Linked DNA regions of Homo sapiens. The protein of the gene in region 3 purifies or fractionates together with the protein of the main gene of each other region. This does not show direct contact. Each region holds a gene or a part of one and is shown on either strand. Other genes may lie near its edges.

Region 1 (3,500 bases), on a different chromosome or scaffold from region 3:
AACTGGTGTGGCACCAGATGTCTTCGCTGAAAACATGAAGCTCAGAGAGGACACCCATCATTTGGGTAAAAATATTAAATGTTCTTTAAGTTAACCCATTTGGAGGGCTGATATCATTAAGGATGCTACATATACGATAAGGATATCAAGACTTTACTCAGTACTAATCTGATGTCAGTGAAAATTATTGGGATATATGAAACTTATCTTTAGCTTTATTACCAGATGAATTGTATATCATAACTAATTGTAGATATTCTCTCCCTTTCCTTTAGTCAACTATATTCCCCAGGGTTCAATAGATTCACTCTTTGAAGGAACGTGGTACTTAGTTAGGGTGGATGAAAAGCACAGAAGAACTTACGCTCGGCGTCCCACTCCAAATGATGACACTTTGGATGAAGGAGTAGGACTTGTGCATTCAAACATAGCAACTGAGGTAAATAAAAGAGTTCCCATCTCCATATCTTAGGGTTTAGGAGACCTAACTGGGATTTAGCAACATAAATAAATGTCAGTAAAGAAGAGTAAGGGCTCTGGGAGTAGATTCTAGCTGTACTATTTCCAATTGTATAAAGTGCTTTGCATTTGAATTATTAATATTTTAAGAATATACAGTAAAGGCCGGGTGCGGTGGCTCACGCCTGTAATCCCAGCACTTTGGGAGACTGAGGCAGGCAGATCACGAGGTCAGGAGATCAAGACCATCCTGTCCAACATGGTGAAACCCTGTCTCTACTAAAAATACAAAAATTAGTTGGGCTTGGTGGCACGTGCCTGTAATTCCAGCTACTCAGGAGGCTGAGTCAGGAGAATGGCTTGAACCAGGGAGTCAGAGGTTGCAGTAAGCTGAGATCACACCACTGCACTCCAGCCTGGCGACAGAGCAAGATTCCATCTCAAAAAAAAAAAAAAAAAAAAAAAAGAATATACAGTAAATACTAGGTTTTATTAATGATACCAGGATTTAAAGGAAGACTGATATAGAGAGAAGGTTCATTTGTGGTGTGTGTCTTTGTGAGAGATGGAGTAGAGGGACAAGGATCCTTTCACATCTCATCCCAGATCATGGTCAAAATCTGTCCTCAAATTGTCAAGAAGTAACAATCATAGCTATGATTTGAATTCCTGTTACCTGCTAGGCACTTTACTTACGTTTTCTTATTTAATCCTTACAACAACCTCCTTGAAGTTTATAAATGATACTGTCCTCCCTTTAGAGATGAGCCTCCAAGAAGTTACATTACTTGCCCAGGATTATAGGTAGTAAGTATTAAAGCCAGGTTATAAACTAAGGACTTTATAACCTTGAAACTACTTATTTATCTGCTTACTACAAGTTTGGTAAATGGATAGTCTTGCTTTTTGCTATTATACAAATTAGGTAGCAAGTCAAACCGCCACTGTTTGAGTTGCAAATACAAGACGTAACAAGTAAAATACTGTTACGTGGTGGGTCTCTGTGGCAGGCTTCCTCTCCCCCCCATATGGATAATTGTATACTAAATTCACCATAAGGTGAAAAATGGATATTGAGTTCCCTTCATGAAAAGTTATATAAAATATATATTTAGCATAAACTTCTCCAGAGTTGTCCTTTATTAAGTTTCTTTACAGAAACTTTAATTGGTGCCATGATTCTTGTGGGGGAAAGAATCATAAGAGCCATCAACTTTTTTCCTTTCATTTTAGCATATTCCAAGCCCTGCCAAGAAAGTACCAAGACTCCCTGCCACAGCAGCAGAACCTGAAGCAGCTGTCATTAGTAATGGGGAACATTAAGATACTCTGTGAGGTGCAAGACTTCAGGGTGGGGTGGGCATGGGGTGGGGGTATGGGAACAGTTGGAGGAATGGGATATCTGGGGATAATTTTAAAGGATTACATGTTATGTAAATTTTTATGTGACTGACATGGAGCCTGGATGACTATCGTGTACTTGGGAAAGTCTCTTTGCTCTATTTGCTGACATGCTTCCTGTTGTGGTCTGGCCAATGCCAAATGTACTCGAATGATGTTAAGGGCTCTGTAAAACTTCATACCTCTTTGGCCATTTGTATGCATGATGTTTGGTTTTTAAACATGGTATAATGAATTGTGTACTTCTGTCAGAAGAAAGCAGAGGTACTAATCTCCAATTAAAAAATTTTTTAACATGTAAGAATTTTGTACTTTGAACAACAAGATTACAGAAAGTACCTGTGGTTTTTGGAAAACATTTCTAGCTTGGGGAATGTGACAACATTCCCCAGTGTGGTAAAATTGGGGTAAAATGTGGTAAAATGTGATACGCACAAACCCTTTGAAAATAGCAAAACAAACATGCCCTTTTTCTAAAATTGATAAATCCTAAAGAGGAAGAAAAGAGCTGGGACAATAAAACACTGGCTCTGGAATCTGGAATGTTAAGTCCAGGCCAGCAGTGACAAAAGTTATTGTAATGACCTCTGAACAGAGAAACACTGCCATTGAAGAGGCTTCTGGTATAGAAAACATGGTACATTCAGGAGCTGTGAATATAGCTCTAGGTGTGCTCCTGAATCAGTTCATGGTAGATTATGCTGAACAACAGTGAGATGTTATTGGAGGTGTGGATGAGGGAGTTTGTTGTTGCAGTCCTTCTTTGCACCTTATTTTAAAGAATAAATGAAACATTTTTCTGGTTACTTTTTTAAAAATTTAAAATGGAAGGGAAGAATAGGGGCAGGGCATTATTAGGCTATTTCTGATGCTTCAGTGTTATAAATTCAACATAGAGGCTGACAACCTAAATTCATGGTGTAACACAGCTCTTTTCCTTTTCCTTTTTTTTTTTTTTTTGGTATCTGTTCAATGAAAATAAGGTATGACCCAAGTTTTTACCTAGTCTGACTAGAAGTATTCCACTTCAAGGTCTGAAGTAGGACTTTTACCTTAAAAAACAACAACAAACAAAACTATCACACAGGATAGATAAGAAGATTGGTTAAACAGTTTTGTGTAGATCTTTTTGGTGCTGAACTATGACATGAGCCTTATAGATTGTAAAATAGGGATAGTTGGAACTAATGTACAGAACTAAATTTTTTAAACTTTATTTGCTGTTAAATTCTGTGAAGTTTCAGTTATCTAAAATAAATATACACAAATATGAAATATAATGTTTCAGATTGCAAGGTAATATGTAATAGTAGTGTTTGTAAGATACTCTTGTCTAATATTAACTAGTAGTATTTTGATTTGTACAGTCATAATTTGTTAAAATGACTTCATTTAACATTCACTGATGTAGATTAATAATGTAAGTTCTGATTTAAAGAATGGTGGCAAAATGGTGCATGTAATACTTTTGCAAGTGTTGGGGAGATCGGTATGTTTTGAAAAGAGTAATTTAACTTTTGGGTGCCAGGAAATGGGTTTTCTCAAAGTCCATTGCCGGCAATGGGCAGGCCTGCAAATACTGGCACAGAGCATTAATCATACACCTTATTAACGGTGAGGTGAATAACTTTGAAATAAAG
Region 2 (3,500 bases), on a different chromosome or scaffold from region 3:
TAGAAGGCAACAAGACTTGACCAAACAGCAGTTGCTCTGTTTACATCCAAAGAAGTTTTAAAAAATAAACTTCTGATATCATTCATTCTGTCTGTGTTAATTGGGTTGACAAATGAAAGACTAGAAATATAAAAGATTGATTTAGACTAAACTAAGTGATAGCATAAGTTCAAGCTTTAGGTTATCATTTTCAAACTTTAGACCCTGAGAAAGTATGTTGTTACAGATATAAATCTCTTATTATATAAAAATCCATCTTTATTTTTATCTTCTTCCTAGCTGATATTCAGCAATGAGTATACCCAGGCAGAAAACCAGAATTGGCACCTGAAACACTTCTGCTGCTTTGACTGTGATAGCATTCTAGCTGGGGAGATATACGTGATGGTCAATGACAAGCCCGTGTGCAAGCCCTGCTATGTGAAGAATCACGCTGTGGTGAGAAGTGTTCTAAGGATATGGTTGCCTCAGCCTGCTTTAGGACTTGAGTTTATGCTTTTCTTAAAGCCTCTTACAAATGGGAAACAGAAAGCAGTCCTCCTAAGTAGAAAGCAAATTATTCCTACCACAGGGTGTTAAAATCAAGGCAATTCAAAAACAATACATGCATTGACTATGAGCCACCTCAAGATTTCTACTTGTGAAATTTACAATATCAATTATAGGTACTGCTTAATAATAAAATCCTCACTTAAAAAAATTCTTAATGGGAATGAGATTGTTTTATTTTCATGGTTAGCAATCAGATTCCATTTCAATAAAGGTGTCTAGGGGCTATTGATATTCTTTAGCTCTATTTGAATATGATGCTTTCTGTTTGTGTTATTGGACCACCCACTGGAATTTTGTTTTTGCTACCTGGAGATTGTAAGATACCTATTTCTTAAACCCTCATTGAATTGATTTAGCATAACAAAACTTGGCCTGCGTATTTAGATTTTTGTGTGGGCCAAACATTCCAATGTGAAAGTATATTTTTTCTTGCATTTACTCTGCTTACACAGAGCTGCTGTTGTATAATGGCCAAGTGATGGTAATGTAGATAAAGGGTAAAAAGTTGACCATAGATGGTAAAGTGTATAATCCAGGAGTATCCAAATAGACATTTACTTCTTTATATGCAGCAAAACACATATGTGTTAATGGTCCCCTGAGCTATCAAGTAAAAGGGACTCCTGGCTAAGGAATGAAATTACATATGGTTTATATAGTTATATATAGTTATAAGAGTGTGGTACTGTGAAGATAAGGTAACAAGTTTTTATGTCAATGCCAATTTTCAGCGTTCACCCATTGCCCCAGATACAGTTATTCATTCTCTATCAACTGTGCCTCACCAATATATTTCACATTCTTATAATTACAACCATTCTACTTTAGACCTTTTTTTTTGTTGTTATTTTGACTATTGCAGTGGCCTCAAATTTCGTTCCTCCACTTTCATTCATCTTGCTCAAAAGCTACCCACCATAATGATGGAAAATTATCTTCCTAAAATGCAAATTATTAAACTTTTGATAGATCTGGCCCCTTCTTGCCTCTCCTGTCCCTTCTACTAGTTATCCAACGCAAATCATACATTTCCACACGTTCACCATCATTTTCTAGTTTACACACTGTTGTCTTTTGCTTACTCCTAATAGTTTTTCTAATACACCGTACTTTTCCCTGTTTTACCTGACTGTACCTACACATTTATTCCTTTAGATTCAGTTTAGGTTTAACTTTTTTTCGGAACACCTTTCCTGATTCACTATGCCCAAACTCCACCATTTCCTCCAGACTCTCCATGTTCCCAATGGTGTGTGTGTGGGTGGGTGTGTGGGGGTGTGTGTGTGTGTGAATATCATTCATCTGTCTCCTTCACTAGACTGTAAGCAGCTGGAGGGTAGAGCTTGCCTTATATCTTGCTTTCTATATCTTCAGTGTCAGCACTTAGAAAATGTTTGAGTGACTGACTCGTGTTCTTAATATTTCTCGCTTTGGGGTTACCATGGTCATTCCTTTACCTAGGGAACAAGACGTCAAATCACCATGTAACCTGATACATTATTTAGCTAAAAACTGCTTCAATGAATATTGTTGCAACAGTTTTTCTACAGACTAAAGGTATTATAATGTATACCTTTTTTTTTGCTGCTGTCTGACCTTTAGTCTCAAGGACTAGAATGTAACTCCATCAGGGCAGGGATTTTTTTATCTGCCTTTTCTATTCTGTTCCCAACACTAGGACAACATAGGTGCTCAATAAAAATTTATTGAAACAGATGAAACTGCTTTTTTTTCTTTTTTTAGCTGTTACAAGCTTCTCTGTATTACATTGTTTCTAATCAATGGCAGGGTATAACCACAGATATGATTTGTTTAAATAAAAGAATTTTCAAATTATTTAGTTTTATAGCATAGCATCATTTTGGCCAGGCATGGTGGCTCACGCCTGTAATCCCAGCACTTTGGGAGGCCAAGGTGGGCGAATCATGAGGTCAGGAGTTCGAGACCAGCCTGGCCAACATGGTGAAACCCCGTCTCTATTAAAAATACAAAAAAATTAGCTGGGCGTGGTGGCAGGTGCCTGTAATTCCAGCTACTTGGGAGGCTGAGGCAGGAGAATTGCTTGAACCTGGGAGGTGGAGGTTGCAATGAGCCGAGATCCTGCCACTGCACCCCAAGCCCAGGTGATTGATAGTGCGACACTCCGTCTCAAAAAAAATATATATATATGTGTGTGTGTGTGTGTGTGTGTGTGTGTGTGTGTGTGTAGCATCATTTCTTTTATGTTTACTTTCTCAGTGGGATATACCATTGGCCTTTGCCTAATATTAAAATGAGCATACATATCCATTGCCAGAACAGATTCCAGCTAACAGCAAAGAGAGCTACCCACACAGCATGCTACATTATATAAAATTTGGAGAAGGTTATCTAGTTCAGGGCATTGATCTGCTTAGATCTTTTCATCTTAAAGAGAGAAAATACAAATTATTTTTAGACCTGAAATCAAGTGCTCAACTCCAAACAACATTTCTGAGAAAAAAAAAAAAAAGTACCTGGAAGGAAAAAACATGGCAGATGCACCTACTTTGTCTCTGTGTAGTCACTAGAACTCCATAGTTACCCCCAGAATTCACATCCGTCAGATTCATAGGACACTCCTGCAGAGAGCTCATTACAACAGGTGTCATTAGCTCTTTTACATCCTGTGTACAAATAAGAAGAGGGATTGAAGGAAATAAGAATTCTTTGAAATATTAAAGGTTTAGGAACATGGGAAGATCAAATGGCAGGCAGGAAGTGGTGAAGCACATCATCTCCCTGAAGGGTTCTGCAGTCCCCAGGCCCTTGGCGCAGCCTGGGCCAATTTTAGATTTTTGAGGAATTAGGGAACAGTAGATTCGACCTGTGATTACATGTCAGATTTTGAATGAATGGTAATCAAATTATTAGTAAAATGAAATTTTATGAAACCCCAGACTTTAATTCTCTATACCATTTATGTGTAC
Region 3 (3,500 bases):
AGATAGTAAGGTCCTCCTACAATCACCACCACCACCGCCGCCACTGCCACCACCACTAATGTATTAGAATCACCAGGAACATTGAAATCCTAAGTTTTGTTAAACTGTCCATTGAGAACCTTTACTTTACTTTTTTAAGGACTTTACAGCCTGACTCTCTCATGCTATCTCTTTCCCTTATTTCCCCATTCCAAATCAAATCCCCTTTGCTACACCAAATGCTTGCATATTCTGTATCAAGAAAGATTTCTCAGAATACATATAGCAAGAATAACCAAAATAACTATTTAAAATTCTCCCAAAATAATCAGATCCCTAGAGGAAAGGTTTCTATTATTTCCATAAAGTGTTTCCACTTCTTTTAAATAAAATCTATGTAAGTAGGAAACACAAGTTTTAAGATACAGCTATTAATAATTTTCTATCTATTCATCATCTTAATTTCCTCCCCAATTGATGTGCTATTCGTGCACATGATAAATGATTTGAGACTCCAAAGAGCTCACTGTATTTACAACAGAAAAATGTTACAAAGACACATGCATCAAACAAGAAGCCATACAGTTAAGAGCATGTTACATTCCTATTCCACAAGGGGTTAATGACAATCCAAAATACTGTTTTATATATGAGTAAGATGAAGCAAGCATGAAAAACATTAACAAGCTGTTGGACTGTGAGATTTGAACACAATTTTGGAATGCCTACAAGCTCAGTTTCTTTCGGCTTAATTTATGTTCAAAGTTGGCTGTACATCATTACCAAACACTATTGGTGGCAGGGGTAGGGGTGGGATTGAAAGGATAAAGTGATGACAATAAGAGGTAGTTATCTGCTGGATGCTTAGCAGCACTAGCAATAAAGTGAGATGCCAGTTCTACATTCTAGATTCTACTTTGAATCATTTCTAATTCAATGGAGGGAAAAAGTAGGGTACCCAAATCTTGCCAATTTCTCAAAAATAGAGTTATTTTAATAAAAGTAACCTACATACACAGAGTAGACTAGTGCTGCTACTCCTGTGTTTTATAGGAACTGGCCAAATTAGAACCCAATTTAGGATACTTAGCCATACACGATGCTAAAGAACTGTATTGATTAACCAAGAATTATCACAGTGGCTTTAACACCTAAGACTTACAGAAAGCACATCCTGCTTCTGCCTAACCAAGAGGTATCTGGGGTAATCTTTGCAGATCTAGTAATAAGACAGGTCACTATTCCCCCAGGAAAGGTAGTGGAAACAATAGCAGTTAACAAGAGATTAACAAGATTCAGTGCTTAGATAAACCTTGCCAAGTGCAATGATTATTTTTCAGTTGAGTTGCCCCTTGAATAAAAATAAAGCACAGCCTAGCCTAGTTTATGTGTGTCTGTATATGTATATATTTCCTTCTCCATTGTAACACAAATACACAAAATTTTTACCATGCAATTAATTGGATCAGAGTGTGAGCCCTGAATAAATTCTTTTTTTTTTTTTTGAGACGGAGTCTCGCTCTGTCACCCAGGCTGGAGTGCAGTGGCGCAATCTCTGCTCACTGCAAGCTCTGCCTCCTGGGTTCACGCCATTCTCCTGCTCCAGCCTCCCAAGTAGCTGGGACTACAGGTGCCCGCCACCATGCCCGGCTAATTTTTTTGTATTTTTAGTAGAGACAGGGTTTCACCATGTTTGCCAGGATGGTCTCGATCTCCTGACCTCGTGATCCGCCTGCCTCGGCCTCCCAAAGTGCTGGGATTACAGGCGTGAGCCACCGCGCCCGGCCGAGCCCTGAATAAATTCTAATGTCACTTATAAGAATTTCTTCCTGTCACTTATACCATTTCTTTTCCAGGCATTCTCAAAGAAACATGCTAGTCAAATCCAATTCTCAGAAAGTTGATACGGGGTCTCTATATGACTTGGCATGAAATATTAGGAAACTGGCATCTTATAAGCCTCAAAGACAAGTTAGCAGCATCAAAGACATGCAACTGACTTTGCCATTCCTACTGGAGATCCTAACACAAACAGCACCAGACATGAGGAGAGGAGAAGTTCATGCAGTGCTCACAGAGAATCAGAGAGGGTACCACTACCTGGAGGGTCTGGACTTGCTGGCCTGAGGCGGATGCCACCTGGGCCTCAGTCTGCAACTGCACAGCAGTGACACCACCCTGCTGCTGAGAACAGGAACAGGAAGAGCTTGAAATATGTCAGGAAGGAAATGTGTAGTTCAAGACACAGATCACCTTACCTCTTGGAGGAGAGAGACGGAAGCCTGAAGGACTTTCAAAATGTACAGACTCCCTATATTGAAGCTGTTTTGTTGAAGGTAGTAGGATTAAAGATATTAGCCCTTTGTCTCCAGAGTGGACCTCAAAAATTTGACTCAAAAACTCAAAACAGTTGTCATCATTAACACAAAGATTTGTAATGCAATCTTTCCCTCCAGAAACAGGAATCTGACACTTCTACTTACACAATTGTTTAATGCCCTTTTTATCTCCTCAGATGAGTTCACAAGAAAAAAATGATTAGGTTTTAATAGCCCTGAAACTACCATAAAAAATTCTGGGCTTAAATGCAATCACCAAGAAAGGAGGAGTAATTAATCACTATGAACCGAAATCATCTTCATGACGTCAATGCTCTCATGTCCCAAAACTAAGATTCTTTTTTTTTTAAACTTTATTTATGTACTTATTTTGAGATGGGGTCTTGCTGTTTTGCCCAGGCTGGTCTTGAATTCCTGGGCTTAAGCCAACCTTCCTGTCTCAGCCTCCAGAGTAGCTGGGATTACAGGCATGCAGCACCATGCCCAGCTTCAAAACTAAGATTATTTCTACCCAACTGGACTGCTTTAAGAGCCATGTTTTCAATGATTCAACCTTATTTTTACATCCACTAATGGCAAATTCTGAAAGAATAAAAACCCACCCTCCAGGGCACTGGTGTGAATGGAGGGCCCTTTGTGGAATCCCTTCCTCTAAAAAGGCAGTTGAAGGAAACTGCCAGAGCCACAGCAGCTGTATGGAAGGGAAAGCTATCAGGGGAGTTCGTCTTTGATCATTAGACGGGAAAAACTCATCATCAATACTACCTTTCCCTTCCCTACTACTTTTCTATATTAGCTAAATTCCATTTTGAAAACAAAGTATTTCCAAAATATCAATCTTGGCCTAAGGTCAAATAGAAACATAATACATTTTTTTCTTCTGGGGTGGGGAAAAAAGTGAAATTTTACTATAATAAACCCAAGCATAAAGCATCAGAAAATGTAACCTGTGTATAAATTCAAGAAAGCAATCTATTAATTAGGAATAAACCAGCAGCAGGGAATTCCTTTCTAGTATGTCTTATCCATAAGAATGGCTGTCTAAATATTATCCTAATGTTAAACCAGAGCTTTTCTGAATAAAAAATGTGGCAGACCAAATCAAAAAACAGAAGATTTATTGGAAGCTATGTTGGTTTGTCTGTTGTGGCCAAAGACTTACTAAATCACAAGTTAGCTCAA
Region 4 (3,500 bases), on a different chromosome or scaffold from region 3:
AGGAAGTCATTCTTAGCCGGCTTCCCCTCCTCCCACCCATCCTCTGCAAGCTGCCCGGCTTTCCCTACAGCCGCAATCATCACAACACGCCTGTGCCGTCTCTCCCCTTTATGGTTGTCAAATTGATTTCACCACCGCGATACCTATGGCTCCCAATGAAACTTAATTAAAAATACCATTTAATCACAGAGTAACAAAGGCAAACGGGATAAACGGCATTACCACTTCGGCGCATTTTAATCCACACCGCTCCTCTCCATCTGAATCTGTCTGGATGAGAATTGCCTTTTCAAACCAGAATCCCCTTGTCTTCCATGTGCTTGCCTCTGACAGATCTCCAAAATAAACAGTTTTTAGCGTGGCATGGATCCAAATGTATGCAATTTGCCCAGTGGTAAAATCAGCCCTAACTAGAGCAAGAAAAAAAAAAAAGAAGTTGCATTTGAAAATACCTTCCTTCCCTCGAAGCATACAAAAAACCGTCTACTGAATGTGGGATCCGTTAAACGGGTCCTATGGACTCTCAATTCTGGCATCCCTGGATTCAGTGGAGTGATGGGTTTTGAAGCTTATTACTAAAATTGTGTCACCAATGATGCCATGACCCTGCTCTTTTATGTCTAGAAAGCTCTGTGGGGCTGGAGCCTGCCAGTGAGGGCGTCAGGAATGGATCTGCTGGGGTGTGGAGGGGAGGGGCTGTTTAGAGTGAACTCTGTAGGCAGGCAATCTAGAGGGGCCGCAGGCCATCTTGAGATCTCACCCAGCCAGGGGGACATTCCCAGTTGGAAAGCCGCTCCTTTGGATTAAGCTGTTTGCTCTCTCAGAGACCCTCTGGAATCCAGATAGAGCGATGATCTAATGCATAAAAATATCTCACCAAGTTACTTCCATGCCCTTGCTGCTTGAAACCCTCTCATGCTTCCTGGGGTGTGTGGAATAAAACCCGAGCGGCTCCCGTCTGCTCTGCCCTACATCTCCCCTTCTCCCCTCCTGGTCTTCTCGGCTTCAGGCTCAGGGCCCTTTTCCTTCCTTGGGCACCCCCTCCCAAGGCTCTCCTGCCTGGGCCCGCCGTCCCCTTTCCTGGGAAGCTCTTCCCAACCACCTCCCTTCCCCACAGCCTGATCAAGGTCCCCTTGGTCAGTCACCATCTCCTCTTGTCCCTCTCCCAGTTGGTTCCCTTCCTGGCACTTACAACCATCTGGAACACTCTTGTTATTGATTTGCTGCTTACTGTCTATTTCCCCACTATGGGGTAAGTTCCTATTTTGGTGACTACATATCCCAGGGCATCCACTAGCCTGGGAGGCAGAGATCTGTCTTGGGTCCCCAGGCTTGCCTCATTGCTGAGGCTGTGGTCAGCACCAAGAAACATTCATGGGAGGAAGGGAGGGAGGTAGGGCAGTCAGTAGCACCTCATTGCAAAGGGATCTCTTAGATCACTTTTCTCAAGAGACCTGGGACCACAGGGAGGACTGGCAGGAAAGCAGGAGGGGGCTGCTGCTGATGGAAGTGGTCCCTTATCCGCACACATGGGGAGAAGGGTGCGATTTCTGGGCCTGTGCTTCCAGGAAAGTCCTTCTCCAATTCACAGCAGAAGCAAGCCTTCCTTTGACCCTGCAGGATACGAGTTCATTGTCATTGCCCGCACCAGCTGCTTTTTTATTGGGTCTTGCCCACCTCCTTCTACCCACCTGAAACCTCCCTGGAGAGCACATGAAATCCTCAAACACATGATCAATGAAAGTCACCATTTCTTTCTTCTCTCGCTCCGTGGCCCAGGCTGGAGTGCAGTGGCATGATCTCGGCTCACTGCAACCTCCGCCTCCCGGGCCAAGCGATTTGCCTGCCTCAGCCTCCCGAGTAGCTGGGATTACAGGCACACACCACCACACCCAGCTAATTTTTGTGTTTTCAGTAGAGACGGGGTTTCACCGTGTTGGCCAGGCTGGTCTCGAACTCCTGACCTCCAGTGATCTGCTGCCTCAGCCTCCCAAAGTGCTGGGATCACCATTTCTTTAGAGCAAATGTGATCTCACCTTTCGGATTCACTTAAAGTAGTGATTTCTCCAACCCTGTTGCACATTCCCTGACTCCACCTGGAGGACTTTGAGAACTAATTCCACCTGGGCCCCACCCAGGACAGTGAAGCTGGCTCATCCATGCAAAAGGAAAAAAACAGCAAAATCTCTCGGTTTCTTATCTCATCCTTTTAATATGTTTATTGGATATGAATATTTTATGATGCAAATGACATTAGTACAAGCAGTCTACGAATAGAGTTCAATAGTCACACACATATATTGGGGTAAGCACAAAATATTTCGACTAGAGGGGTGCAAGCAAGCAGGTTTGGAGAGCACTGACATGAAAGGGTGATGCAGGTCAGGTTCACAATTAATGAAAAAACGGAGAAAAAGAGGGAGTATGGCAAACCATAGGCTGGGTCATGCCCCAACTCGCAGTGGGAAGATGCTTATTTAGCTTGCTGCCATGCGAGGATGGGGGCCTAGGACTATTGGGTGTTCTGAGTTCTAAAGAAAAATGCAGACCTTGGCTTGGCGCGGTGGCTCACGCCTGTAATCCCAGCGCTTTGGGAGACCGAGGTGGGTGGATCACGAGGTTGAGATCGAGACCATCCTGGCCAATGTGGTGAAACCCCATCTCTGCTAAAAATACAAAAATTAGCTGGGCGTGGTGGCACGTGCCTGTAGTCCCAGCTACTTGGGAGGCTGAGGCAGGAGAATTACTTGAACCTGGGAGGCAGAGGTTGCAGTGAGCTGAGATCGTGCCACTGCACTCTAGCCTGGTGACAGAGTGAGACTGTGTCTCAAAAAAAAAAAAAAAGAAAAGAAAAAAGAAAATGCAGACCTTTTAATTTTATGTGAAATCTCCCAATTTTTAAATATGGGCACCTAATGGGATATAACAAAAAATGAACATCATAGGGGCTAAAGAAAACACTGGGCTGGATGGCCCGAGGGTGCCCCATCTGTGACTTTTAAACACCACGCCCTCCTGGTCTATGTTATTTCATTTATTTCATTTAATCTCTGTAATGACCCTGTGAGACACTGCTTCACTTCTCTTTTACCAATGAGGAAACTGAGGCTCAAAGACACCAGGGAATGAATCCAAGGTCTGAGAGACTCGAGTCTCAACACGATGAGACCCTGGCTGCTTTGCTTAATGTGACATTTCTGTGGCTATTAACTGCATTCATGGGAATGAGTGCAGGCCGTGAACCACTGCAATTCTGGTGGCAGGAAAGAGTTTATTCTCAGTGCACCTTCAATAGGCAAAAGCTCTTCAACTTCTCAACTACTGTGAACAACTACACGAGAAAGCAACAGGCTGGGGAGACGGGGGGCTAACTATTCTCACGATTTCTTGGGACACCAATGGGCAGGAGCCAGGTCAGAAAGGGAGAGATGTGTTAATGGCATCACAAGACAAAACTGGCGGAGGGGTCAGCAAGAGAGAGGAAAACATCTACATCCAGG
Region 5 (3,500 bases), about 42 Mb from region 3:
ATTAGCTGGGTGTGGTGGTGGGCACCTGTAATCCCAGCTACTCAGGAAGCTGAGGCAGGAGAACTGCTTGAAACTGGGAGGCGGAGGTTGCAGTGAGCCGAGATCGTGCCATTCATTGCACTCCAGCCTGGGTGACAGAGCGAGACTCCATCTCAAAAAAAAAAAAAAAAAAAAAAAAAGGCATTAACTAGGGCCTGTTAGGTGCTGCATTTCATATTGCTAATCAAAAGAACATTTGTCTGTGATGGTGAGAGTGGACATCTAGTTGAGAGTATTTAGGCTTCAAAGTAGGAATCAGAAACCCTAAACAAATAAAGCATCACAGTCTAAGAAATCTATTTGAAAAGTCTAAAGCATCAAATCCCCAAGGCATAGTTTAAACGATGACAGAATGGGTTTTAACTTTCATATCTCTTGGATCTAGAGTCTAAATAATGATATTAATATTAACCTATTTTTAGCAAATGTCATAATATACCTTTTAGTTGTTCTTAAAGTTGTATAACAGAAATTCAACCTTCTTTGAGAGACAAAAAGATGAAAATAGATGAGGCAGAAAAACAAATTCTCATCTAGCTGTTTATAAGACACTGTTATGTTTTGCACAGAATTCGGTTTTGTTTTCAGACAAGTCTGATACCTTAAGCTCTTTAGCAGATAAAACATTTTGTTATAAACAACTTTCTAATGTAACTAAATTATTACTTCATATATAAAGGTTTTGGAAAATTATATTTGAGAAAGAGGCCTGTAACATTATATATATATATATATATATATATATATCTCCCCCACTCCTGCACTCCCACTCTTCCTGCCTTTCTATAATCACCATATTTTAAGGAGAAATGTCATTAAATAAATGACAGTACTGTAGCTAGCTAAATATTCTCATATATATATGTTATTAACATGGTGAAGGGAACCTTCCCATACCATTTTTAGATTATATTTTTATGGTTCAATAGTCTTTCTGTATATTGTAACTTAACCTTTCCTATCTTCACCTGTGCCTACAGTAGCAGAAACTCACATCCAGCAACAGGCAGACCTTTCCTTTTTCTCCAATCCTTTAGCCAAACCAGTGTCTAAATTTTCATCCTCAAAATAACTTTCAATGTTTTATGTAGAAAAACATAGAACATTAGGCAAGATGATAAGAAAGAGTTGAGGCATACATTTATATCAGACACATTCAAAGTTTAAAATACAACTACATAAATTTGGCTAATTTTGTTTATGTGTGTTATAGATAAGTCTCTTAACCCTTGAGGCCTGTTGAGATATATTAAGACAAAATAATTAATTAAACACTTGTTTATTATATGCCTAGTAGGTGCAAGGCATGATGCTAAGACTTGGTTGTTGCTGAAAGGACTTTTTTTTCCTTTAAGGATTTAAGGACTACTGAATAATGTGAGGCAAATTCCCCAATCTAGAGATGAGATAAAAATTAAAATCAGTGAGAACACTGATGCCATCCCAAATAAGAGAGATAAACAATGGAGTGGCTCCTTGCCAAAAAGAAAAATCACTAATTCTAGTATTGAGCATTTAAGGATATATGATTAAAATAGAGCCATTAAGTTCCAGTTAATGCAGAGTGACATAGCGTTCATGTTTACCTCTCTAGTTCATTTTGGATTTCTTTCCAAAATAAACATTTTAGATAGATATGACTCAACCTCTATTTTGTTGTAATGATATTTTAAAGTCTTTGAAGGGAAAAAAGGCTCCTTTCAGCATATCAGCCAAATACATATTAGTACAAACATGGTATAAAATAAATCATAGTAAAATGTTGAAGCATTGAGGACTCCTATCCCAGTCTGGCTGGATGTCAAGATAGTTGCCCAAATGTTCCACCCATAGTACCAAAACCCAAACCCAGGATTTAGCAAAGCAAAAATAAGGTTGTGGTTTTACATTGTATGCTTCAGTGTTTGGGAATAGCTAGTTAAAAGCTATTTTAATAAGCCTCTAGAACCAAGCTGCTTCCTTTCTATTTAACTTTTATGTTTAAATCTTAGATATCTATTTCCAAATCACTTGTGGAAAATTATCAGTAAAACATTAAAATATGTATTTTATTTTGTTGAAGAAGAGGATTTATACAACATTCTAGAAAAGGAAATAGTTCTTATCCCTCTGATTTGTGTGCTTTTCTTTCCATTTTGGTTGTATAATTTTTAAACTTAAACAGTAAGCACCTTAGATATCCTAGGCCTCCCTATAATGAATAAAAATTTGATTATTAAAATATCTGTTATAGTTTTACTTTACCTTGGTTATTTTGTAGCACTGCTCTGCAGAACATTCTGCTTTGCTAGTTGGATTACTCAAAGCAAAAATAATAGGCCGTTCATTGAAGGCAGCCATATCTTTGAGAATTTGTTCTGAGAATGCACCACCAATTGCAGCAACTCCTAATGAAGAAATATGAAGCTGGTAATTAACACTATCATTGGTTAATTCACACAAGAAGACCATGCCTCAAATCAATGATATCTATCAGCTCATTTTCTAATAGACCCTAAACAAAATGCTATATAAACTATTTGTATTCAAGTATAGTGACAAAAAGAGGCAAGTTTGTTAATGCCAACAATCCTTACAATCCTTAGGGTCACAAATCTACAAATATCTATTAAAAACTAAAGATAATATTTGGCTTCCATAGTACATTGAGTTAGTTACCAATCACTTGGAAATTTGTATCTAATGTGTAAACTTTCTTTATAAGCAATTCTATGAGTATATTTCAGTCTTGTCAGGCTACAAAGCAATTAAGTTTTATAAACCAACGCTATCACTTAAGACAACCATCTGATTCATCTGCAAAAGTAAAGTACCACCCACTGAAGTAACTTTAACAGAAGAATAAAGCAATTAGCATAATGGAAATGAAAAACAATAAGATTATTGACAGAATATATTTTGTAAAAACAATATTAAACACTTAGTAAAGTTCCTGTCATGGAGTAAGTACTTCTTTTATTGTAGTTATCATCATTATTTTCAACGTTGTCATCTGTTTCACAAGAGCTTGTAGGAATGGAGTATAATACAAGGTAAAAATCAAAATTATATATGCACAAAATAAAGAATAAAGTTTCATAAATTCCTTTGAGTTTTCTAAAACCACTTTAAAGTCTTGCACTGCACATGCATTGTGTAAGTACTGTATTAAGTGCTATAAGGAAAATAAAGATTTGTGAGATGTGATCCCTGTCTTCCAGGAGGGTCTTATCTACTGCAGTATTTCTCAACCTCAGCACTATTGACATTTTAGGCTGGATAATTCCTTGTCGCAGGGGCTGTCCAGTGCACTACAGGATATTTAGTAGAATCATTCCGCTGCCTCTATCTGCTAGATGTCAGTAGCCCCTCCCTTTACTCCCTTCCAACCCCGCTACCCTAGTTAAGACAACTCAAAGCTTCCAGACATTGCCAAATGTTTCCTGCAGGGCAAAAATCCCTCTTATTTGAGAACCACTGTC
Region 6 (3,500 bases), about 38 Mb from region 3:
AATTTTGGATTTCCTATTGTTTGTTCTGCAATGACAAATTAATAAAGTATTGGGTTTGGGATCATCAATAATTAGTAATAAAAACACATTAATTTAATGTGATAGAAGGAAACACCAAGGAATCACTTTATAGTTTCAAAATAAATGGTTGTAGAAAGAAGATTTTCTTTATTTTAGACTTTCCATTTCAACACGGTTGAAGAGGTTCATTCAAGATTCCAGAGTCTGAATGCTGATATCAACAAACGTGGAGCGTCTTATATTCTGAAACTTGCTAATAGATTATATGGAGAGAAAACTTACAATTTCCTTCCTGTAAGTACTTTGCCCTTCACATTCTAAAACCCCACTAGACAGTGCAGATATTTTCCAGCACAATCAAGTCATGGAGGTCAGTTTTAATATTTGTAAACTTTCAGAAAAACAATACAGAAGGCAAACATGGCAAAAACAATATGGAAGGCAAACACGACAGAATGCAAACTTTAATTGACATGGTGATTTTGTGTTACAGTCTTTTTAGTGAAAAGATAGCTCTTGGAGGTTTTACTGAAGCAAGAGTACAATCAGTGTTTGTGAAATCTTAGTCAAAGTTCAGAAAAGAGTGGTAATTTCTATATAACAACAACAGTATAAGGGTTAGGCTTACCACTACTGGAATGCACAGTTAAAAGTGGCTAAGATCGTAAATTTAATGTTAAATGATTTTTACTACTATAAGAAAAACTATAAGAGTTAGAAATTTTGTGTTACATGGAATTGTAGCCTTTTAGGACAATTTCTGTTGCTTTTTGGGATTTTAGAAAACAATTTCTATATGTAGTAGGAGTTATATATATATTTCCTTTTCCTTTTTTTTAATAGGAGTTCTTGGTTTCGACTCAGAAAACATATGGTGCTGACCTGGCCAGTGTGGATTTTCAGCATGCCTCTGAAGATGCAAGGAAGACCATAAACCAGTGGGTCAAAGGACAGACAGAAGGTGAGAGCCTGGGCAGAATGGAATCATTATGCGCTGGTCATGTCATTCGTTTCCTCAGTCCGCCTTCCCTACCTGCAGTTATTCCCTCCCCAGCTCCCACAGTCCTGGCGCACATCGTGGTTACAGTCAGAGGACGCTGCCGGTGCGTGAAGTCTGCACTGCACGTTGCTGGACAGCTCTCACATGTTCGAAGTTCACCAGAGTGGAAACTTAAACATGATTTAACTCAAGCAGCTAAATCCTTTTTTCTCATCAGCTCCCCAAAACTTTTAAAGTTGCATTTCAAAGTTAAAACCAACATTGGCAGGCGCGGTGGCTCATGCCTGTAATCCCAGCACTTTGGGAGCCCAAGGCGGGCGGATCATTTGAGGTCAGGAGTTCAAGACCAGCTTGGCCAACATGATGAAACCCTGTCTCTACTAAAAATACAAAAAATTTAGCCAGGTGTGGTAGCACACACCTGTAATCCCAGCTACTCTGGAGGCTGAGGCAGGAGAATCTCTCGAACACAGGAGGTAAAGGTTACAGTGAGCCGAGATCATGCCACTGTACTCCAGCCTAGGCAACAGAGCGAGACTCCGTCGTAAAAAAAATAATAAAAATAATAAAAAATAAAAAATAAAGTTAAAACCAACACTGAATACAGCAAAAAAGGAATTAAAATTTTGAGGAGAATTCAGCCTGCCAAAAATTACCTAATACTCATATGGAAAGAAATGTCCTGGAATTTCATGGAAATACCTGAAATCAATATTCACAAACTACTGTGGTTGTAAATTTTTTGCCAACATCTTGTCCAGTAAAAAAGTTGTGGTAGGTGGGGACTGACTTGCTTTTAGGGTGCAATTTATTTCTTTGCTACATCTCTCTTCTTACATAGCCCTGTATTAGTCAACCCACTCCAGAAGACCTGTCTTCCATTATGGGAATTGTTCCCAGCCATACTTATGGTCACGAAGGTGACCTTTATTTCCATGGAGTATGTTCTGCTGGTTTTTTTGTTTGTTTGTTTGTTTTTTGTTTTTAAGAGACAGAGTCTTGCTCTGTCGCCCAGGCTTGAGTGCAGTGGTGCGATCGTGGCTCACTGCAGCCTTGACCTCCTGGGCTCAAGGAATCTTCTCATCTCCACCTCCCAAAGCACTGGGACTGCAGGTGTGCGCCACCATGCTTGGTCTTGTTCTGCCTTTTGGATATTGTTTAAACCTTTTTTTGTGAGAGTAGGCATCTACTCAGCGATTTGAAGAAGTGATTTACTGATGACTAAAGATATCTTCATTAAGAATTTTTTTTTTCTAAAAAAGAATGGTTGTTACAAAATAAGGCTCATTGTTTATCATACAGTCCAGAAAAGGAGAATTTTCCTGTCTTTTGTCTTTCGGCACATTTGACTTGTTTAAAATGTCAGGTCCTTGTGGGAAGTTTGTGTGTCATCCTGGTCTGTCTGCCCCACAGGTTGTTATACTTAAAGTAGAGACATGTTAGTGAGTAGGGCTTTCCTAAGTTAATATCTTGTTAAATGAAAATTAAGTAGAAATTATATATTTGAATTGCATTTCCGTGCTAATATATTGTCAGTTCAAATTTGGAATTCCGATTTGGATTTTTTTTACGCTAACTTGATTTTTTTTTAGGAAAAATTCCGGAACTGTTGGCTTCGGGCATGGTTGATAACATGACCAAACTTGTGCTAGTAAATGCCATCTATTTCAAGGGAAACTGGAAGGATAAATTCATGAAAGAAGCCACGACGAATGCACCATTCAGATTGAATAAGGTGAGGTGAGGTAACTGTACAGAGTCATGCATTGCTCTAAAAGAATGCAGAGAATAATTTCAGTGATTTTTTAAAACTGTTCAGAAAGACAGAAAAACTGTGAAAATGATGTATCAGAAGAAAAAATTTGCATATGGCTACATCGAGGACCTTAAGTGCCGTGTGCTGGAACTGCCTTACCAAGGCGAGGAGCTCAGCATGGTCATCCTGCTGCCGGATGACATTGAGGACGAGTCCACGGGCCTGAAGAAGGTATGGCTCCTGGGCTTCATGCTTTGTGGTTCCTCTTGCATGTGTGTGTCGCATGGTAGGTAGGTGCTTGTTAAGTGTTCACTGATGGTGCATTTTCCAGTAGTTTGTCATTCCTTTGTAAATGTAGCCCATCAACACTTACTACACTAAAGCCCAGAGTTAATTTTTTTTTAAATTTACTTATAGAGACAAGGTCTCACTATGTTGTTTAGGCTGGTCTTGACCTCCTGGCTTCCAGCAATCCTCCTGCCTCAGCCTTCTGAGTAGCTGGGACTATAGCTGTGAGCCACTGTGCCCGGCTAACGTTTCATTTTTCAAGAAAGATGGCCAGCTACTTTCAGTGGACACTTGTGATGGGGTCATTAAAGATCTATACTAAATATAATACTGGTTAGTGGCAGCTCATGGAAAGGCTCTTGAATTAGCTTTAGAGGAAATTACAGTAAGATGAGGATTGTTTTACTGAGGAAAAAGATTGAAAAGCCCCAAATA
Region 7 (3,500 bases), on a different chromosome or scaffold from region 3:
CTTCGGTCCCCACAGCACCCACTCCCTTCCCAGCCCCAGAGCGCCCGAATGTGGTGCTCTGGACCGTGCCTCTGGGCCACACGGGCACTGCCACCACCGCGGCCGCCGCCTCTCACCCAACGCACTACGACGCCCTCATCCTCGTCACCCCTGGGGCCCCCACTGAGAAGGACTGGGCCCAGGTCCAGGCCTTGCTGCTACCAGATGCGCCTCTTGTCTGCGTGCGCACAGACGGCGAGGGCGAGGATCCGGAGTGTCTGGGAGAAGGCAAGATGGAGAATCCCAAGGGCGAGAGCTTAAAGAACGCAGGTGGAGGGGGATTGGAGAATGCACTCAGTAAGGGAAGGGAGAAATGTAGCGCTGGATCGCAGAAAGCAGGCAGCGGGGAAGGTCCTGGGAAAGCTGGCAGCGAGGGTTTGCAGCAGGTTGTCGGCATGAAGAAATCAGGTGGTGGCGACTCAGAGCGGGCCGCTGCGTTAAGCCCGGAGGACGAGACGTGGGAGGTGCTGGAGGAGGCGCCGCCGCCAGTGTTCCCCCTACGGCCTGGCGGACTCCCAGGGCTATGCGAATGGCTGCGGCGAGCGCTCCCCCCAGCCCAGGCAGGGGCACTGCTGCTGGCGTTGCCACCAGCATCTCCCAGCGCTGCCCGAACCAAGGCTGCGGCGTTGCGAGCCGGGGCGTGGAGGCCAGCTCTGCTGGCTAGTCTGGCGGCGGCGGCGGCACCACTCCCAGGGCTGGGCTGGGCATGCGACGTGGCACTTCTGCGGGGTCAGCTGGCGGAGTGGCGACGGGGCCTGGGGCTGGAACCCACGGCACTGGCTCGACGTGAGCGTGCCCTGGGCCTGGCTTCTGGAGAGCTGGCAGCGCGCGCTCATTTCCCAGGCCCGGTGACGCGCGCCGAGGTGGAAGCAAGACTGGGCGCCTGGGCGGGCGAGGGCACTGCTGGGGGCGCAGCACTGGGGGCTCTCTCCTTCCTGTGGCCTGCGGGTGGTGCAGCGGCGACAGGTGGCCTGGGCTACCGAGCGGCTCACGGCGTCCTGCTGCAGGCTCTCGATGAGATGCGGGCTGATGCTGAGGCTGTGCTGGCACCCCCTGAGCCTGCCCAGTGAGGAGTGGGAGGGGGCTTGGGAGTCCAGACTCTGACAGGGGATGCCTGGGCTTAATCCTGGGTGCTTGAAGGGGATGTGGACTCTTGACTTCCAGCTGGGATGTGTGACTTCTTATCACCTGGATTCAGAGAGTCTGGGGGACAGGAATCCTGATTTTTTTTTTTTTTTTTCTTTTTTTTGTGAGACGAAGTCTCTTGTTGCCCAGGCTGGAGTGCAATGGCGCGACCTCGGCTCACTGCAACCTCCGCCTCCCGGGTTCAAGCGATTCTCCTGCCTCAGCGTCCGGAGTAGCTGGGATTACAGGTGCCTGCCACCACACCTGGCTAATTTTTGTATTTTTAGTAGAGACGGGGTTTCACCATGTTGGCCAGGCTGGCCTCGAACTCCTGACCTCAGGCGATCGACCCGCTCCGGCCTCCCAAAGTGCTAGGATTACAGGCGTGAGCCACCGCCCCTGGCCAGGAATCCTGATACCTTTGGGAACCATGGTGAATGACATCTAGACCCTTCTGTCCTGAAGGGAGTTGGTGGCCCAGACTCTAGCAGGGACTATGTCTTTGTCTCCTAGGGAGTAGAAACTGGAGTTACTGGATGTTTAGTCCTCCAGGGAGGCTGGTAGAAGTCCTGTTTCCTAATTGGTGGGGAGGTGTCCATGACTGGGACCTGAACTCCAGTATAGGGGAGGGAGACCTGAGCGCCCCAGGGAGCTGGAACTCTTGGGCTTCAGAGCCTCAGAGGGAAACAGGGTCTACATTTCTCTGGGAGAAAAAGCCTGCACACAGGTCCCCAAGGAGCAGTGGGCTTTGAATCTTGATGGGGTGGCGGAGGCCCCTGGGGTCTGAGACTTCCGGGGTTCTAAGATGGCTGTGGACCTTGGTTCCTAAATATTGGGTAAGGGGAGGTCTGCATCTGGAGGAGGGATCGGGGGCTTGTGCGAGAAAGCTGGAGACTTCTTGATCTCTCCTGGGGAGTGGATGGGTTTCTATAATTGCCCTCCAAAAGCATGTAGGGAGGGTGGTCCCACAAAAATGAGGTGAGGTGGGTAAGAGGTCTGGGCATGGTGGGCTCTGGGAGTAGCCAGGGACCAGGAATGAGGTCTTTTGGGTGTGGAAGGGCAGTAAAGCATACCTCAGAGACAGCTCCTCCAAACCTTGTATTGGGATCCCGGCAACTGCCTCTGTGAGTGTGACTGGGAAGGGATATGACTGCCTTCATCTTCTAGGTGCTGAGCAATTCAGGTGATCTCTGGGGAGTCTGTTTCTCTGTCTCTTTTCTTTAGGAGTTTCTATCTTTTTTTGGCCTTTTTCTCCTGGTATTTAACCATAACCCTTTATGGCCTTGGTGTTTTGTGCACCTTCCTTTTCAGAAGAGCAGCTGTACTGCTGCACTGGTCCAAACACTTCTGTATGGACACCTCGGGTATCCCCAAGAGGCTCTGCTTTCTGATGTACATAGAGGGTGCTGCATTGAGCCAGGGGCCCACCAAATGGGTGGTCAGGCACTTGAGACCATGGGAATATGCCAGGAGTGAATGAAGCAAAGGCAGAAACCACAGTGCCTGGAATGTTCTAGGCTGCTAGCCACATGTGGGGGAAAAGTTGCAGGTTACAGAATTCTTCAGTGTCAAAAACAGAAAAGGAGGATCTGAGAATCCAAGCGATAGAATCCCTTTTGTCGTAGACAGAAAGAGCAAAGTCCAGAGAGGGCAGGCTTGAGGCCCAACAGCACACAGTAAGGCCCTGTGGGTCTGGCCCTTGCCTATTCTCATTCACTGCCCCTTCCCACTCCTGTCCAGCCTGATAGACTTTCCTTCTTTTTTTTTTTGAAATGGAGTCTCACCTTGTCACCCAGTCTGGAGTACAGGGATGTGATGACTGTAGCTGAGATGACAGGCATGTGCCACCACACCTGGCTAATTTTTGTAGTTTAGTAGAGAAGGGATTTCACCCTGTTGGTCAGGCTGGTCTCGAACTCCTGACCTCAGGTGATCCACCCGACTCAGACTCCCAAAGTGCTGGGATTACAGGTGTGAGCCATCATGGCCGCCTGACTCTTTCTGATGCCTGAGTGGCTACCTTGAGTCCTGCCTGGGGACCCATGCACCTGCTGTTCTCTTTCCTTCAAGGCTCTACTCACAACTTCCTGTTCTACTCTCAAACCTTCCTGTGACGGGCTCAGTCAGATCTCAGCTCACGTATCCCCTCAGAGAGGACTTCCCCTCCCTGACCACCCTATCTGAAGTAGCTCACATTCCCCCACTATTCATTTCGGCCAGTTGAGTTTCCTTGTAGCAATTATTACTGTCAAAAATGATCTTATTTATTTACCTGTTTATTGGCTTTTGACCCGTTGCCTGTCCTGTTCTCTGTTGTTTCCCCAGCATCTAGAACA

Evidence for each region.
Region 1: the proteins of NFYA (region 3) and HMGCS1 purify together in Homo sapiens (affinity purification with mass spectrometry; 3 studies listed by BioGRID and IntAct, with this or other methods). This does not show direct contact.
Region 2: the proteins of NFYA (region 3) and TES purify together in Homo sapiens (affinity purification with mass spectrometry; 2 studies listed by BioGRID and IntAct, with this or other methods). This does not show direct contact.
Region 4: the proteins of NFYA (region 3) and FTO purify together in Homo sapiens (affinity purification with mass spectrometry; 2 studies listed by BioGRID and IntAct, with this or other methods). This does not show direct contact.
Region 5: the proteins of NFYA (region 3) and ME1 purify together in Homo sapiens (affinity purification with mass spectrometry; 2 studies listed by BioGRID and IntAct, with this or other methods). This does not show direct contact.
Region 6: the proteins of NFYA (region 3) and SERPINB1 purify together in Homo sapiens (affinity purification with mass spectrometry; 2 studies listed by BioGRID and IntAct, with this or other methods). This does not show direct contact.
Region 7: the proteins of NFYA (region 3) and IRGQ purify together in Homo sapiens (affinity purification with mass spectrometry; 3 studies listed by BioGRID and IntAct, with this or other methods). This does not show direct contact.

What each region holds. Positions count from the first base shown.
Region 1 is NC_000005.10:43,289,413-43,292,912, reverse strand, and holds part of HMGCS1 (hydroxymethylglutaryl-CoA synthase, cytoplasmic), read left to right. Parts: coding exon 1-65; intron 66-275; coding exon 276-439; intron 440-1,692; coding exon 1,693-1,782; 3' UTR 1,783-3,500. UniProt on the Homo sapiens protein: Catalyzes the condensation of acetyl-CoA with acetoacetyl-CoA to form HMG-CoA, which is converted by HMG-CoA reductase (HMGCR) into mevalonate, a precursor for cholesterol synthesis.
Region 2 is NC_000007.14:116,252,039-116,255,538, forward strand, and holds part of TES (testin), read left to right. Parts: intron 1-279; coding exon 280-438; intron 439-3,079; exon of another isoform or gene 3,080-3,500. UniProt on the Homo sapiens protein: Scaffold protein that may play a role in cell adhesion, cell spreading and in the reorganization of the actin cytoskeleton. Plays a role in the regulation of cell proliferation. May act as a tumor suppressor. Inhibits tumor cell growth.
Region 3 is NC_000006.12:41,079,474-41,082,973, reverse strand, and holds part of NFYA (nuclear transcription factor Y subunit alpha), read right to left. Parts: intron 2,164-3,500; coding exon 2,077-2,163; intron 1-2,076. UniProt on the Homo sapiens protein: Component of the sequence-specific heterotrimeric transcription factor (NF-Y) which specifically recognizes a 5'-CCAAT-3' box motif found in the promoters of its target genes.
Region 4 is NC_000016.10:54,113,156-54,116,655, reverse strand, and holds part of FTO (alpha-ketoglutarate-dependent dioxygenase FTO), read right to left. Parts: 3' UTR 1-3,500.
Region 5 is NC_000006.12:83,225,052-83,228,551, forward strand, and holds part of ME1 (NADP-dependent malic enzyme), read right to left. Parts: intron 2,427-3,500; coding exon 2,284-2,426; intron 1-2,283. UniProt on the Homo sapiens protein: Catalyzes the oxidative decarboxylation of (S)-malate in the presence of NADP(+) and divalent metal ions, and decarboxylation of oxaloacetate.
Region 6 is NC_000006.12:2,835,364-2,838,863, reverse strand, and holds part of SERPINB1 (leukocyte elastase inhibitor), read left to right. Parts: intron 1-177; coding exon 178-315; intron 316-864; coding exon 865-982; intron 983-2,613; coding exon 2,614-2,756; intron 2,757-2,840; coding exon 2,841-3,008; intron 3,009-3,500.
Region 7 is NC_000019.10:43,589,635-43,593,134, reverse strand, and holds part of IRGQ (immunity-related GTPase family Q protein), read left to right. Parts: coding exon 1-1,109; 3' UTR 1,110-3,500. UniProt on the Homo sapiens protein: Autophagy receptor that specifically promotes clearance of misfolded MHC class I molecules by targeting them to the lysosome for degradation.